Homo sapiens: one gene and its partner. The protein of the gene in region 1 interacts with the protein of each later gene in a pairwise test. Each region holds a gene or a part of one and is shown in the gene's direction. Other genes may lie near its edges.

Region 1 (7,417 bases):
ATATTAAAGTAAGCTGTTCTTTTGCCATATCAGAGAACATTTCTGATGAAGGTGGTTTTGAGAAAGTAAGTCTTTGCTTTTTCACCTTGACCTGAAGGGGACCGTTTGCACAGGGAATCCTGGAGGGGGCATGTTTAGGGCCAAGAAAATGGGCCTTGGGGCTCTGGCTGCTCCTCGTTGCCCACGGTGGTTCAGTTCTCTCTGTGGGGAGGCAGCGGGAGTGACAGCCAGGACAGATGAATGGGGTGAATCTTGGTTCTGGTTTTCTTAGGCCATAGGGTCTTATGCAAATCATTTAACCAGCTGAAGTCTCTGTTTCCTTGGCTGTTAAAATAGGGTTTAAAGTGTTTACCATAAAGGGCAGCTGTGAGGCTGTGAGATGGGAGAATCAATCTATTTATTGGTCAGAAAGTGGTTGTTCAGTACCTTGGATTTCTGAGTGGGCAAGGCTGGACCCTGAGCCCTGGGACCTCTGAAGTGAACACTGCAGGGCCATTTGGTGAGTGCTCTGGCCGTGTTAACACGACGTGCTATGGAGCCCTTGGGAGGGCACCTCACTGGGCTTGCAATGGAGGTGGGTGGTGGCTACAGATGGCTTCCTGGAAGATGGCTCAGAGGGGGGCTCTGATTCCCAGTTACGAACTGTGGACCCATGGTTTCCCTCCTCCTGCCACTCTGAAGTCCCCAGGATTTCTCCCAACCCCATCCCAAGGACAGACTGCACAGCGTCAGAAGGGACACGCCCTGGGGCTTGGGTGCGTGTATGTCTGTGAATGTTTGCATGTATTTTCAGCGTTTGCTTCCTCCCCTCACCACTACCCCTGTCGGTTAAAAGTCTGTTAAAAGAATGAGAGCGAGAGAGAGAGAGAGAGAGAGAGAGAGAGGAGAGGAGGGGCGGGGTGGGGGAGGAGGGGAGTGGGGAGAGAGAAAGAGAGAAACACCAAAAAGACATTTTCAAGGAAGGAAGAAAATTAGATGGCAACCCCCTGTCCCCTCCCCCTAAGAAAATCCTCTCTGAGATTAAACTGTGTGAAGATTAGAGGCGTGTAGGTCAGGAGCAGGAGGAAGCCCAACGCTGGACTGTACCAGATCATCTAAAACTGGCAATTCCAGGCACAGAAAACCAGTTCTTCAGAAGCAGAAGGGTGGTCAGCCAGGGGGTGAAAGGGACAGGGGTCTCGCAGCCAGGTATGACAATGCCCTTCCTAGTCCTTTCCAGGATGGGGTGGGACACACCCAGTCCATCCTGACTCTGGAGTACGTCTCCACTTTCGTGCAGAAAATGGTACAAGGCCTGAGGCCTGGAGCTCGTTATAAATCATGCTGGTGGCGTTTCTTGCTTTGTTTCCCAAAGGGCAGAGCCTCATCTCCCCTTCTACTTAGGAGATGGAGGGGATCTGTCCATACAGGCAGCTGTCCTTGTCTGACTCCTCTGCTTTCTGAAGGGGAGACATTGTCCCCCTTAAAGGACACTGGATCTCCTGTTGGAGGGGCAACCAATTTTGAACTCTTTGCCTCTTTAAATCTTTTAGAAACTTGGATGAGAGAAACTTTTTATCCTGAATTTTCTGAAGCATATCTGAAGTCATTTTTCTTTATTATTATTATTATTATTATTTTTTAGGCTGACGTCTCACTCTGTTGCCCAGGCTGGAGTGCAGTGGTATGATCTTGCCTCACTACAACCTCTGCCTACTGGGTTCAAGCAATTATCCTGCCTCAGCCTCTCGAGTAGCTGGGATTACAGGCATGAGCTACCGTGCCTGGCTAATTTTTGTATTTTTAGAAGAGACGGGGTTTCACCATGTTGGCCAGGCTGGTCTCGAACTCCTGACCTCAAGCGATCTGCCCTCCTCGGCCTCCCAAAGTTTTGGGATTATAGGCGTGAGCCACAGCACTCGGCCTATTGTCATTGTTATTATTAGTATTATTTTAGAGACTGGGTGTCGCTATGTTGCTCAGGCTGGTCTTGGACTCCTGGGCTCAAACAATTCGCCTGCCTCGGCCTCCCAAAGTGTGGGGATTATAGGCGTGAGCCACTGCGCCCGGCCCATGAAGTCATTTTTCATCTCTGGATAAAACTGGAACATCAAAGTGGTGCTGTGGGGTGGCACATTCTTACTAATCTCCTGCTGCACTCTCCCTGCCGCACACCCTGGAGTTGCTTTTAGTAAACTCTTCGGTGAGATGCAATCAGCATATATGGAGGAACAGCGTAAGGAACCACCTCACGGACTTGTGGCTGGCTGCGTGGAGTCTAAACATGGTGTTTCACTTCAGCCGTGTTGTCTTCTCTATGGGAATCCAGGGGGCAAAGTTTCTCTTTAATCTCAGCACTGGGGAGCCAGGAAGACCTCATGATTCTGAGCTATGTGTTTATGTTTCTCCCGCGGGCAATGAGCTTTCTGTGTGGTGATATTTCCTGCTTCATACCAGTTGCTGAAGAGCATAGAACCACGTGGCATACATTCTCTGTAATTAACCTCACCCCCAGTTTTAGTGTCATTTTTGTCTTCACTTCTCTTGGCCTCATTTTCAAATTTCTTGTTTTTAATTGTTTCATTTTGCTAAGGTGTAAGTATTTTTGCCAGATGCTCTAAATCCTTTGATGAACAAAACCAGAAGTAGATAAAGAAAATATCCACAAGCTTATGTTCTGCTCAGCTGATAACATCACCATGGTGATCTGGCTTTCCACAGAGGATTTTCCCTTTCTTTCCTTTCTTTCTTTTCCTTCCTTCCTTCCTTCCTTCCTTCCTTCCTTCCTTCCTTCCTTCCTTCCTTCCTTCCTTCCCTCCCCTTCTCTTCCTTTTCCTTCCCTTCCCTCCTTCTGTCTGTCCCTCTCTCTCTTTTTTCGAGACAGGGTCTTGCTGTGTCCCCAGGCTGGAGTGTGGTGGTGGATCACAGCTCACTGCAACCTCAACCTCATGGGTTCAAGCAATCCTCCTGCCTCGGACTCCTGAGTAGCTGGGACTACAGGTGTGGTTGCCCAGCTAATTTTTGTAGAGATGGGATCTCACTACGTTGCCCAGGCTGGTCCCGAACTCCTAGGTTCAAGCAATGCTCCCCGCTCAGCCTCCTAAAGTGCTGGCATTACAGGTGTGAGCCACCGCCACTGCACCTGGCCTCCCACAGAGGATTTTCTAGGAGATAATGTGCTCTTCAGAAGGCTCGAGGATCTCAGCTGGCAGATTGAGTTCTTACTGTGCATTAACAAATTGACACATGGGTTCATGTGGAAGTCTTGTGAACTTGGTAATTGGGTGTCTATTGATAAGAATGCTCACCTTGTACCATTGATTCCCTCTACAACTATGCTGCAAGCACAGTCATCTGCTTTCACTTCTTTGAACATGCCAACCTCTTTCCCACCTCAGGGCCTTTGCACATACTATTTGCCTCTACGTGGAATGTTCTTTCCTCCTTCTCATCCATTAGAGTGGCAGCAGTACTTTAGAATAATCAGAGGGGTTTAAAATAATATTGATGTCCGGTCCCAACCCAGCTCAATTAAACTCAAATCTTTGAGTGTGGGGCCGATGCACTGATAAAATAAAATAAAAGGCATGGAGTTGACTTTATCCTTACGGTCGGCAGGTATTTTGACCAAGCTATCACCGTGAGCAGTAGCATCAACAGTTAGTTATTCAGGGATTTGGGGCACAGGCGGTTGTGACCACATCACAAAAGTTCAATTTGTTGGGTTAGGCGTTTAGCCATAACCTAAGTAGTTGCAGATGGTCTCTACACCTGGATTGCCCATTAGGACAAAACAAGTAAACTTGTGTTTTTAGGCAAATAATGAAACTCTGAGGAGTCTGAAAAAACAACTCATCGCCAGGTAACTCCCAGCCCAGGTGCTCGTCCATACAGGGGTGAACGCACGGCAGGGGGCTGCTCGAACTCTCACTAAGCCTGCCTCTGTTCTTTGCAAAATATTTGATAGTTTTTAATGCAGCAAAGCGAAGCAGACAATCCACCTCTTGTTTTCCCCAAGCTGATGGGGGGAAAGTTCTAAGGTGTTGTTTCCTAAGCTCAAATTAACCAAGATTGGTCAGTGGCATGGACTTTTTTTTTTTTTTTTTTTGGTAATTTTACTTCCATGAGGAATCATTTGGACTCTTCAGTCTTCCTTTCTTCAGTTTTACGTAGGGCTTTGCTGGAGGAAAATGGGGCTAAGGGGGAGAGAAACATAGTCTCGGAGTAGGGTGGGGGATAAATTAAACGCAAACCCAGCGGTGCGGCAAAGGCCTTATTCTGCCTCTGATCTGGGGAAGTTTCATATTCTAATGGAGAGAAACGCACGTGCACACACACCCCCCTAAACCCACACAAATGAAACCCCCTCTGCGGAGAAGCCGGCTACAGGAAATTGACTTAGGCACAGGAACTTGCTAATCTCTTTTGTCACATTCGGATTGCTCCTGCTGCCCCACACACACTAACCCAACCATCTTGGGGTGGACTCCCTGCCAGCCCAACTGTTGTATTTTCAGTTCTTCCAGTGTGAATCAGTTAATATTCTCGGGAACGAGGGAGAGGTTGATCCTATGAGGAAATCAACCACAGTGAAAAGGCTTGGGCCGCTTTTGTTTTCACCTGCTTTTGTTGAACAAATTTGATTTCCGGAGTCAGTCATTTTACTGTCAAGACATTTCTTCGGCATTCTGCAACAGGTAAGGATTTTGCTTCCTTAAAAGTATTTCTTTGGTGTCAAAAGAAATTTTTCTAATTTTATTTAGCTTTTACTCTAGGCCAAACATCGTAATGACTCTGAGCTACCTGCTGTAAGGTGTAGAATCAATTTACAGGGGGACGGGGGTCGGGGGGGTGAGTGTTGCTTTGATATTCACTGCCCCTCACCACAGTCCTAACAAGATTTTTGAAACATGAAAAGTTACAATAGTTGGCTTTTTGGTTTTCCAGATATTCTAGAGAATGCATATGCTTGTGACTGTGGCTGAGCTCAACTGTATGGGTAGTTTAAATACTACCCAAGGTTTGATGAAGTAAATCTAAAGATGCTCTAAGTTGTGCAAATATGAATTTTAAAGTTGTCTAGTTCAGAAAAGAAACAGAACCGAAGTCTAAATGATGTAGATTTCAATCTGGAATTTCTAGCTTGTGTTTTTCACCTATTGCCAATGTTAATGACCATTTCCCAAAAGTGCTCTATGATGTATAACATGTATTTTTTAATTAAATTTAATCTTTCTTCTGAGGTGGTTTGATTTGGAGATATGCTACGAGGTACCAGTCAGTAGCCTGAGTTGTAACTAAACAAAGTTTGGGAAATCACCGGTTTTAGGTGCTTTACTAAATGAAAGTTGCCATTGACGTATTCAAGCAGGCAACAAGTAGTTGGTGTCCCCTTATTGGTTCTAAGCTGGTGCCGTGGAGGATATAAGAGAAATATTTTAAAAATCTCTACTTTGAAGGACCCTATAATCTGGTAGTTGTGATAAGAAGTAAAATTTAGGAAGCAATGCAAGATGAGAATTCAGTGATGAGTGGGGCAGCACAGGCTTGAAGAGTTCTGTGAATTCCATGGAGGGGGCCTGGGGGCAAACTGGAGTTGTCAGGAAGATCTGGGCTTTGGAAGAATGCGAAGTGTCGGTAGAAGGAGAAGGGGCAGGTGATTTCAGACTGGGAGGACCTTGTGGGCAAAGGCACAAAGGCGAGACTGACCTGGAGATGATAAGGCCAGTTGAAGAGACACTGGAGAAGAGAAGACAGTTTGTTTTACACATTGCAGGAAATCAGATTAGACAGTTAGGGTGTGGACACAAAAGCGAGGACCTTGCAGGCACTGGGGAGAAGTGACCCCATTCAATAGTCCTTGGTCTCCTTCTGCCCTGCGGCTGCGCTTCCTCGGCTCTCACGGCACCAGCAGAATTCCATGTGAGAGGGAGCTTGTCGAGCGTGGCCTCTTCCCACTTGGGGCTGCTTTCTGCATCCCTGTGCCTGGCTGTGGGCCTCCATTTGCCCTCTACTGTCTTCCCTTAGGACATCATTTATGCAGAGAAAGGTTCGTGTGGCTCGGGGTACCAGTAAGACCTCCACCTCTGGTTTCTTCATTTTAAGGAGGCCCTTCAATTATCCAGGAATTAAAGTGGCCTTCCTCTTGGGAGAACGAGTTGGTTGATGAATGATAAGCAAGTCTCTATTCCTCAAAAGCCAGTCCCCAAATTCCATGAAATATGTGCTACTTTCTTTGCATGTCTAAATGAGATGGCACGGGTATGCTTCTGTTCTTTTTCTGGACGTTGTTTAGAGAGTCAGTAGATCATAATAATTCAGACACTTTTTTTCTGGACCATAAAATATCTGAACCCATATAATAACAAACATACAGCACGGTGAATAAGAACCCAACTTTTGAGCCAGATCACTTTGCATGGAATCCCCATTCTATCATTCTATCATTTCTGGGCTGTGGGAACCTCAGACAAGTTACTTAACTTCTTCAATGCTCAGATTAAAAAAAAAATTCACAAAATATCTCTAATAACAGTAATAATAACTGAAAATACCTACCTCAGAGGGTTGTCGTAGAGATCAAATGAGATAAAAATATGTAAAGCATGTAGCCTAGTGCCTGACTGAAAAAAAAATCTCTCAATAGATGCAACTCTTATGATTCTTATTAAGGACTTGGCTATTGCCACAAATGAAGGTGTTATGAGCCCTGGCTTAAGAGCAAGAAGCCTGCAAAGCTAACTCTCCTAATCCCAACATTCCTTTCCAGGGAAAGTAGGGTGACAGGTGGAGGCTGGGAATTAACGTTTTTTGAGCACCAAATATGGACAAGGCACAGGGGTTGGGTGTTTTTCTAGTGAGAATACATATGAAAGAAGGAAAACAAACTTGGAAACCGCTATTTTAAGCCATTTGGTAACAGTTTCTCTAGCTTATGAGATGAGAGAGGTCCTCTCAGTATCCGCTGCATTACTTGTGGGCCTCCTTGGTTGACGTCGCTCTCTGAACGCTTGGGGTGGAATTCTAGAGGTGCTTTTCATTAGAGGCAGAGAGCATGACCTTTCTTCCTTGCCCAGTTTAAATTAAATTATTTTATCTTACAATGTGTTAATTTTAGTGCTAGCAAGGCACAGCTAAAATTCCATTTCTACTTAGGAGTGGGGATCATTGTGGCAGTGAGTGCTTATTTGGGTTTGGGATGCTTGGATCTGGGTGAAAGCCAGGATTAAAAAGCATCCTCCTTCCCCATTCCACTCTCTAGGTTATAAATATTTTTTTGGATTAAAAGCCTCCTTTAAAAAAATGCAAATCCACCTGGCATGTTAATTGTGCAGGGGATTCCTAATTATGTGTGCAGATGACGTGAGTCACACGGTGATAGTGTTCCTTCTAGAGTCCCACTGGTGTCCTAAGGGAGGAGACTCTGGAGCTTTGTGTA
Region 2 (8,017 bases), on another chromosome or scaffold:
GGAGGACTGAGGAGATCACCCCACCCCTCCTCCGGTTGGGAGGCCAGTGGGGCCCAGGGGAGCCTGGGTGCCCCGCTGACTGATGCCCTCTGCTCCTCCCCTGCAGACGACCAGAGCCCCGCTGAAAAGAAGGGACTGCGCTGTCAGAACCCCGCCTGCATGGACAAGGGGCGGGCGGCCAAGGTAGGGAGGCTGGAGAGCCTGGGGACCCTCGGGGGCAGAGGGGCCAGGGCTCTAACTGCCCTTTCTATCCCAGCACCAGCTATCCACAGAGCCCTGGCACGGGCGCGGCTGGCTGGGCTGGGTTCAAGTGTAGGTGGGGCCACAGTGTGTCTGGTTTAGGAGGCAGAGGGCCTGCCCCCAGCTCAGGAACAGTGGAGTCGGGGGACTTCTACAAGAACAGGGGGGTGGAGTACCCCAAAGCCCTTTGCTGCACTGTGGTCCTAGCAGCCATTCTGAGGTGACAGGAGCTGTAGCCTTATGTCACGGATGAGGAAACTGAGGCTTAGCCAGGGGAAGTGGTCTCCCACGGTGCTGGTCCAGTGCCCAGATGGCACCCTTCCTGTTGAACTCAGCCACTCTTCAGGCCTGGGCATGGGTCTGAGATGCTTTGGGACTTGGCGAGTGTGACCATGGCCCTGGGGATGACAAAAGGAGGAAGGGGCCAGTTGATCCTGGAGTGCCAGGGCTTGGGAGCTGGGAGTGGGGCGAAGTATAAATCAGGGATAAAGGGGGCAGGAAGGAGGATAATAGTACTGGCTGGGCGCTTCTGCCTGTGATGTGCTGGGCTTAGTGCCACCCGCTTTCTGTGCCATATGCACTGATTGCGGCAGCTCTGCAGGGAAGGCATCGTCACCCCGTTTTCCAGATGAAGACACCAAGGTTCAGAGAGGTCCAGTGACTTGGCCAAGGCCCACAGCTCATGAGAGATGGAGCCGGGGTTTGGAGCCAGGTTTTGCCCCTCCCAGCATGCATTTACATGACAATAGTGACAACTGCGCAACTTAGCATCTGGCGCAGGCACCAGGACTCACTGACTCCTCCTCCGGCCTTCTGAGATGGTCCTGTCCTTATTCTCATTTACAGATGGGGAAACTGAGGCTCACTCAGGGACAGACTGCTAGGAAGTGGGAGAGCTGGGATTTGAACCCAGTACCCAGGTCTGTGTCATACCAGGGCCCGTGTTGTCTTCCATCATGTGTCTCAGCACTGCCAGCTGCAGGAAATGTAAAATGCCACCCCCCACCCCCCGCTCCCCTCCCGCACCTCCACCCAGACACACACACACTCGTTCTGCACAGGAGGGCCGTGGTGAGGGAACAGGGAGAACTGCTATGGGGCGGGGCGGGGAGGGGGCGGCCTCCAGTTGCCGTGGTCACCAGGCAGGGGGGCGGTGTGATGTCAGATACAATCTGCTGGCACGGATGGTGCCTGGCATTGGGCTCTGGTGTTGGCTGGTTGCCTCTTTCCCAGATGGGGGCTCCTGGCAACAAATTGGCCTCAGCTCCCCCCAATATACATCCTGCCAGAGGCCTGCGGAGCCCCGAGGCTTTTGCCTGACCTGAAGGGGCGGCTGGGGCAATAAGGCACACTGTCCCAGCCCCTCCTCTGGGCAGCTGCTCTCAGGGGGGGTCCTCAAGCTGCTCAGGCAGGGGCAGGGGTGGGATGGCCCAGCCTTCATAGAGGTGAGGCCTGGGAGAAGAGAGCTGGTCTCAGAGTGGGTATGGTCCCTCTGCAGCCTCCAGACCTCACCTCCAGCCCTGGCCTGCCTGGAACTTGGCACAGCTGACATTGGCATCAGCTGATGAGGGTCACCCAGCGTGCACGGGGAGAGTCTGGGCCCTGTCACTACTGGGACGCCCTTTGGGACAAATGGCACAGACTCACTGTAGGGGCAGAAATGCCTGAATTATCAGAGGCATAGAGAGCCAGTCAGGGAGGGCATCCTGGAGGAGGGGGCCTTTAATGGATGTGAAAACATGGATAGACAGAACAGAGGCAAGGGCAGTCCAGGAAGGGAGAGGCAGTGGTGGAGAGGAGGTGCGGGGCACTCAGATTTGGTAAGAGAAACAAAGAATAACATTGTCGATGATGATAATAATAACCACTACTGGCTGGGTGTGGTTGCTCATACCTGCGATCCCAGCACTGTGAGAGGCTGAGGCAGGAGGACTGCTTTAGCCCAGGAGTTTGAGGCCAACCTGGGCAATATAGGGAGACCTCTCTCTACTAAAATTAAAAAAAAGGCCTGGCGTGGTGGCTCACACCTGTAACCCCAGCACTTTGGGAGGCCAAGGCGGGCAGATTGCCTGAGCTCAGGAGTTCGAGACCAGCCTGGCCAACATGGCGAAACCCCATCTCTACTATAAATATAAAAATTAGCTGGGCATGGTGGTGGGTGCCTGTAATTCCAGCTACTCGGGAGGCTGAGGCAGGAGAATTGCCTGAACCTGGGAGGCAGAGGTTGCAGTGAACTGAGATCATGCCATTGCACTCCAGCCTGGGCAACAAGAGCAAGACTCCGTCTAAAAAAAAAAAAAAAAAAAAAAAAAAAAAATTAGCCAGGTGTGGTGGTGGGTACCTGTAATTCCAGCTACTGGGGAGGGTGAGGTGGGAGGATCATTTGAGCCTGGGACATTGAGGCTGCAGTGAGCCGTGATTGTGCCACTGCACTGCAGCCTGGGCAACAGAGCAAGACCCTGTCTCAAAAATAACAGGCCAGGCGCAGGGGCTCATGCCTGTAATCCCAGCACTTTGGGAGGCCAAGGTGGGCAGATCACTTGAGGTCAGGAGTTCGAGACTAGTCTGGGCAACATGGTGAAACCCCATCTCTACCAAAAATATAAAAAATAATTAGCCGGACATGGTGGCACACACCTGTAATCCCAGCTACTTAGGAGGCTGAGGCAGAAGAATCGCTTGGACCCTGGAGAAGGAGGTTGCAGTGAGCTGAGATCACGCAATTGCACTCCAGCCTGGGCAACAGAGCGAGACTCTGTCTCAAAAAACACCCAATAATAATAATAATAACAATTATTGCTGACCGAACATGTTTACATGCCAGGCGGGGCGTTAGGCCCTCCTGCTTGTCTCAGTGAAGCTTCTTGAGACCCTCAGGAGAACAGCGTTATTCTTATGACCACATGACTTGTAAGGAAACGGAGGCCCAGAGAGGTAGAGGAACTTGCCCACATCACACAGCATGATCGTCAGAGCCTGGCCTGCGTGAGGCTTGTCTGATCAAGAGCCCTATTCTTACTCTCCAGGATGTGACTAGCGTTTTGAAGGAGATGACTTCATTTATTCATTTACCAGACCAGCTCTGAGCATCTGTCGGTGCCAGGCCCAGTTCTAGGCCCAGGAGATCTCCAGAGAACAAAGGGGATGCCCTCCTGGAGGTGACATTCTAGCTGTGCTGGGAGGAAGGAAGGGAAGTGACCCTGGCTGGCCAAACTTCCCCCCAGGCTGCCCTGGCAAAGGACCAATTTCAGGCAGGGCTGGACCCTTCGGCTTCTGGGCCCACCCTTGATGTTTTATTTGAGGCTCTCCTGGGTGCTGGAGCTTCTGAGATGAATTTGCCATCTGTCCCCTACCTCCTGCCCCTGGAGTTCCCACTGGGAGGAGGGCTAACCAGGATGGGCTTCCTGGAGGCAACTGGAGTCCTGAGGATTAAAGAGGTACTGAGATGGAGGACAGCTGAGTGAGCAGGGGGGGACATTGGGGGCTATAAGGGGCAAGCGAGGCCAGGGGGCACAGGGAGAAGGGGACGGGAGGAGGGGGAGGCAGGCTGCACTAGGAGCACCTGCATGTCCAGATGAGGGGTCTGGACTGTGTGTCATGGAGACCCCAGGAGAGAAATGGCCCCTCCCCAGGATGAAGATATGTAGAGCAGTCCACACCTCTGAGCTCCAGGATCAAACCTACTTTTTTCCAGCTGTGCGACCCTGGGGAAGTCACTACACTTCTCTGAACCCCAGGTTCCTCATCTGGAAAATAACCCGGCAGCGAGGATTAAAAGAGGCCCATATATAACATGCTTAGCATAGAGCCTAGCACAGCGTAGGTGTGCAAGGTGTCCTGGGAGTGGGGGTAACAAAGTCACCTCTAGACTTTGGGTGTGCCCTCCGTACCTGCCCTGGGATCTGAGACCTCCCCAGGCTCCATCCCAGCTTCTTGCACACAGGTGGAGCTGTGAGTTTGGGGAGATGGAGAAAGGCCGGGAGATCAAGGCAGACTAATGATATTGTGGGTTCCCCCTGCCCTCCTGTGAGGTGGCCACGGGACAGTGTGTGGACTCCCCAGCTCCTTGCTGGGCTCCACTGGGCACTGTTCGAGGTCTAGTCAGGGCGTCCCAGGTCACAAGGGGGCATGGAGGAGGACACTTGTGGCCCTGGGCCACAGGGGACATTGGGCACCACATGTGAGGGTGTTTATCATGGAGGAGGTAGTGATTCCAGCAGCCGCCATTGATCCAGCACGTACTGTATGCCAGGCCCTGCCTTAGCGCCTGGCACAGAAACCTCATCTGGCCGCCTCCCCCGCTGCGGTGGGGCCTACCCCATCTCCGTTTCCTAGAGAGGGCCCTGCAGAGTGGCGAGGTAAAATGACTTGCCAAGCAAGGCAAGATCAGGACTCAAACCAGGCCTCTCTGTCAGAGCCTCCCATTTCCTCAGAACTCTCAGGAGGAAAGGGAGGTGAATTTTTCTGCACAGCTCCCAAAGGCCTTGACAGGGAGGTGGGGTTCAGCACACTACAGGAAAGAGTTTCCAGCAGCTGGAGCTATCCCCGAAGTGGAGGTAGTGAGCACCCCATCACTAGACATATGCAAGAAGAGACAGAAAGGGAAGCGTAGAGGGGATTGCAGTGTGGAGTGGAGGTTGGATGGGAGGACTTCAGAGTTCCCTTGCAGCTTAACAATGGCCTGTGAGGTGGCAGGGATGAGTCAGGGTATGCGTGTGTGGAGGGAGGGGTGGTGAGATGAAGACCAGGGAGAGGAAAGGGTGGACCTGAGGCCCCCATGGAGAAGGGACGGGCAGGATGTGAGTAATGGGAGAGGCAATCACCTATTCTCCTGGGCAATGCTTTGGGGGTGAGCAGCGGCAGACCAGGATGCCCCAGGGAATGGCCAGGTTTGGGCCATCTCTGGAAGTGACTGGTCCCCGGAGAGAGGTGGTGGGGCTATCTGCAGCTGAAGAAACGGGCAGGGCCAGAGAAACAATGCAAGGGGACTCCTGGGTTTTGGCTAAGTAGTTTTGGGGGAGCAGGTGAAGACGTGGGGATCCCTGGCCCAGCCAGGAGCTGCCCTAGTATAGGCCCAGCCCCAAGGGTTGTGTGGGGCAGTCTGGAGGTTTTGGCCTGGGAAGGGGTCGGGGGAAGGCTGTATAAAAAGCTTGAAAGTGCGGAACAGGTTGGTGGACCTGAACTCCACCTCCTCGAGTGGGCCCCCTGTATCCACACCCTTCCCAGTCCTGAGCCCAGAGTTATTCTAAACTCCCGCTGCTGGGAGAGGGGAACTGGGAACCACTAAATGGCAGAACAGCACCCTTTTCCGGCCATATCACCTGGGCCAGAAAAAAAAAAAAGAGGGGGCCCAGAGAAAAGCGGGCTGTTTCTGGGGCACCGCGGAGGCCGCAGATCAGAATCCAGCTTTTTACAATAGAGCGGAAGCGAACCTGGCTCAGGGCGATTCCGGGGCGGGCTAGGCCTGCGGGTCTCTCTGCCTGGTCCCCCGGGGCTTTTCTGTCGCGCGGAGGCTTCCTGTCGCGGGCCCTGGTCCCCCCTAGCCCCCTTCCGGGATGGGCGAGCTCCCGTCTTCAAGCCCAAGTTAATGACCAGGGACTTTGAACTTTTTGGAGATCTGCAAAGGGCTGGCCCCTCGGGGACAGTGACGCCCCCCACCCCCTCCCCTGAGCCCGGATCCTGGATTACCCCAAGCCACCGCCCGGCCTCCAGCCACCTCCCTGGCTCCGGCGCGGGGCCCTTCCTGGGACCCCTCCTCTCCCCGGTCCCAGCCGGGCGGCGCCGTTGGTACATCCCGGCCGGTCCAGGTGGTAGCGCCCGCGCGGCTACCGTAATTCCCCTACGTCCCGCGCCCCAGTTTGCGCTGAGTCGACTGAGCCCGTCCCGCGGCTCCCGTCCCCCTCTCCCCGCGCGCCCCATGAGGCTTTGGCAGTCTCGGCCCGAGCCTTAGAGCCTTAGACACCGGGGAGGAGACCCTGGTCCTGTTCCTAGGTGAGTCGCGGGGAAGTGGGAGCTGCGCTCCGGACGGGGGGTGGGACTAGGCGCCAGGACCCCCCTAAACCGATGGACAGAACCCGGATTCGAGATTCCCACGTAGTGCCAGGCCTGTGGGTGGGTACAGGGTCCTCACCAGCTGTATCTCCATTTACGTGAGGGTGGAATGGGTTCAAGCTCCCGCCCCCATCACAGTGTCTCTAGGGTGGGTCGGCTCGGAGATAGGGCCGTGAGGAGTCTATGGGACCCTGGCCCCGGTATGGGGGGTATTGGCGGGGCAGGGGGATCCTGGAGGGGCCCGGGCGCGCGGCGTGGCTGGGAGGCTCAGCCGATCCTCCCCATCTGGCCAGTCCCGGAGTCGGTCCCAGGCGGAAAAGCCCTCTCGAGGCCGGCAGGGGGCGCCAGAGGCTGCGCCTCGGGCAGTCTGAGCAGACCCAGGCACCCACTTAGGGGTGGGGGATGCGGGAGACCCGTGAATCCGGGGAGGCCCTGGCCTGCCTTGGTGGAAGTCTGGGAAATGGAGGCCAAGAGGTCCCCTGCAGATTCCTTAGTAACTCCTCAAGTTGAGGGAGCTCGGGGGTATTTTACCATTCTCCTGCCCTTTAGCCGGGGTCCGGGCACACACTAGGACCTGGCAGCCATCCCCAGATACTGAATTCTATGCCCTCTTGGCACAGGTGGGCAAATTGAGGCCCAGTAGGGGAAGGGTGGGGGAACGTAGGCTCCAGACCAGGTCTTCTGAAGCCCAGGCAGGTGCCCTCTTTCCCCCGCTCCCTACCAAGGAGGCTTCTAAGTTGCACCGGGGAAGGGCTTGCTAGTCCAGGTGCTCCGAAGACACACGCTGGGGTCTGGGGCTGGGAACTGCAGAGGCTGGGCAGGAGGGGATGTTCACAGACTGCAGCCCCTCCCTCTTTCTCTAGCACTGGGTCCCAGCCTTGGGCATACTAGCCAGGACCGCTCCCTGGGGAGGAAGGGGCCTTCCTGGCTTCCAGGGCCCGTGCGGTGGGCTTAGCCTGGGGAGAGGTTTTCTGTGTCCCTGCCATCTGCCCGGCACAGGGCAGGGCCTTAGGTCAGGCTCTGACTCCAGGTGAGCCTCAGAACCCAAGGGGTGATGGGTGAGGCCTGGGCCTAGGGGAAAGGAGGGTGGGTAGGCCGGGTGGAGCGTAGAGAGCCGCCTGGCAAAGCCACCCCGCCCTGGCTGGCCTGCCCATGCATGCAGTCTCCACCCCTGGATTTCTAAGGTGTTGGGTGGGGCCTTGGGACTAGCAGGCTCCCAGGGGAGCTTAGCCTTGGTGGGAATTCCTGGCAAGGACATCCCTCCAGCCAGAGAGCTCGGACTCCTGGTTCCAGGCCCGTCTGCTGTCGGCAGAGCCTGGAGCTGGCCCCAGACCTGCGTCCTTTCCTGGACAGGGAAGTCCCTCTCCCACCCAGACCAGGCTGGGGCCCCAGCTCGTTGTGGGGCAGGGATGCCTGGGGGATCCCTGGTTTCCCATCTGCTTTTCTGGGGCTGGGGGAGGTGATACTGAGGGAGAACAGCCGGGTGCGGGGGTCCTGCCTTGGAGACTCCATTATTCATCAGCCTCCGCATCTGGTTTCTGGGTATCAGTTTCAACAAGCCGGCCCTGACTCACAAGCCTGGAGCTGGGGCTGGGCTGGGGAGGGGCTCCCTCCCCAGGGAGTTGGGGGCCAGGACTTCTTGGGCCTGCCCCTGAGCTGTTTCAGCTCCCTGCTGTGGAGAGGAGGTGGGAATGCAGGAGCCTGCCCAGGCCCACCCCACTGCCCT

What was found. The genes of interacting proteins can lie anywhere in the genome.
Region 2: the proteins of RHOH (region 1) and PLEKHG5 interact in binary tests that used the Homo sapiens proteins (3 or more experiments, as listed by UniProt).

The regions. Positions count from the first base shown.
Region 1 is NC_000004.12:40,192,625-40,200,041, forward strand, and holds the start of RHOH (rho-related GTP-binding protein RhoH precursor), read left to right. Parts: upstream 1-4,406; 5' UTR 4,407-4,676; intron 4,677-7,417.
Region 2 is NC_000001.11:6,488,659-6,496,675, reverse strand, and holds the start of PLEKHG5 (pleckstrin homology domain-containing family G member 5), read left to right. Parts: upstream 1-5,008; 5' UTR 5,009-5,039; intron 5,040-6,095; exon of another isoform or gene 6,096-6,231; intron 6,232-8,017. UniProt on the Homo sapiens protein: Functions as a guanine exchange factor (GEF) for RAB26 and thus regulates autophagy of synaptic vesicles in axon terminal of motoneurons. Involved in the control of neuronal cell differentiation.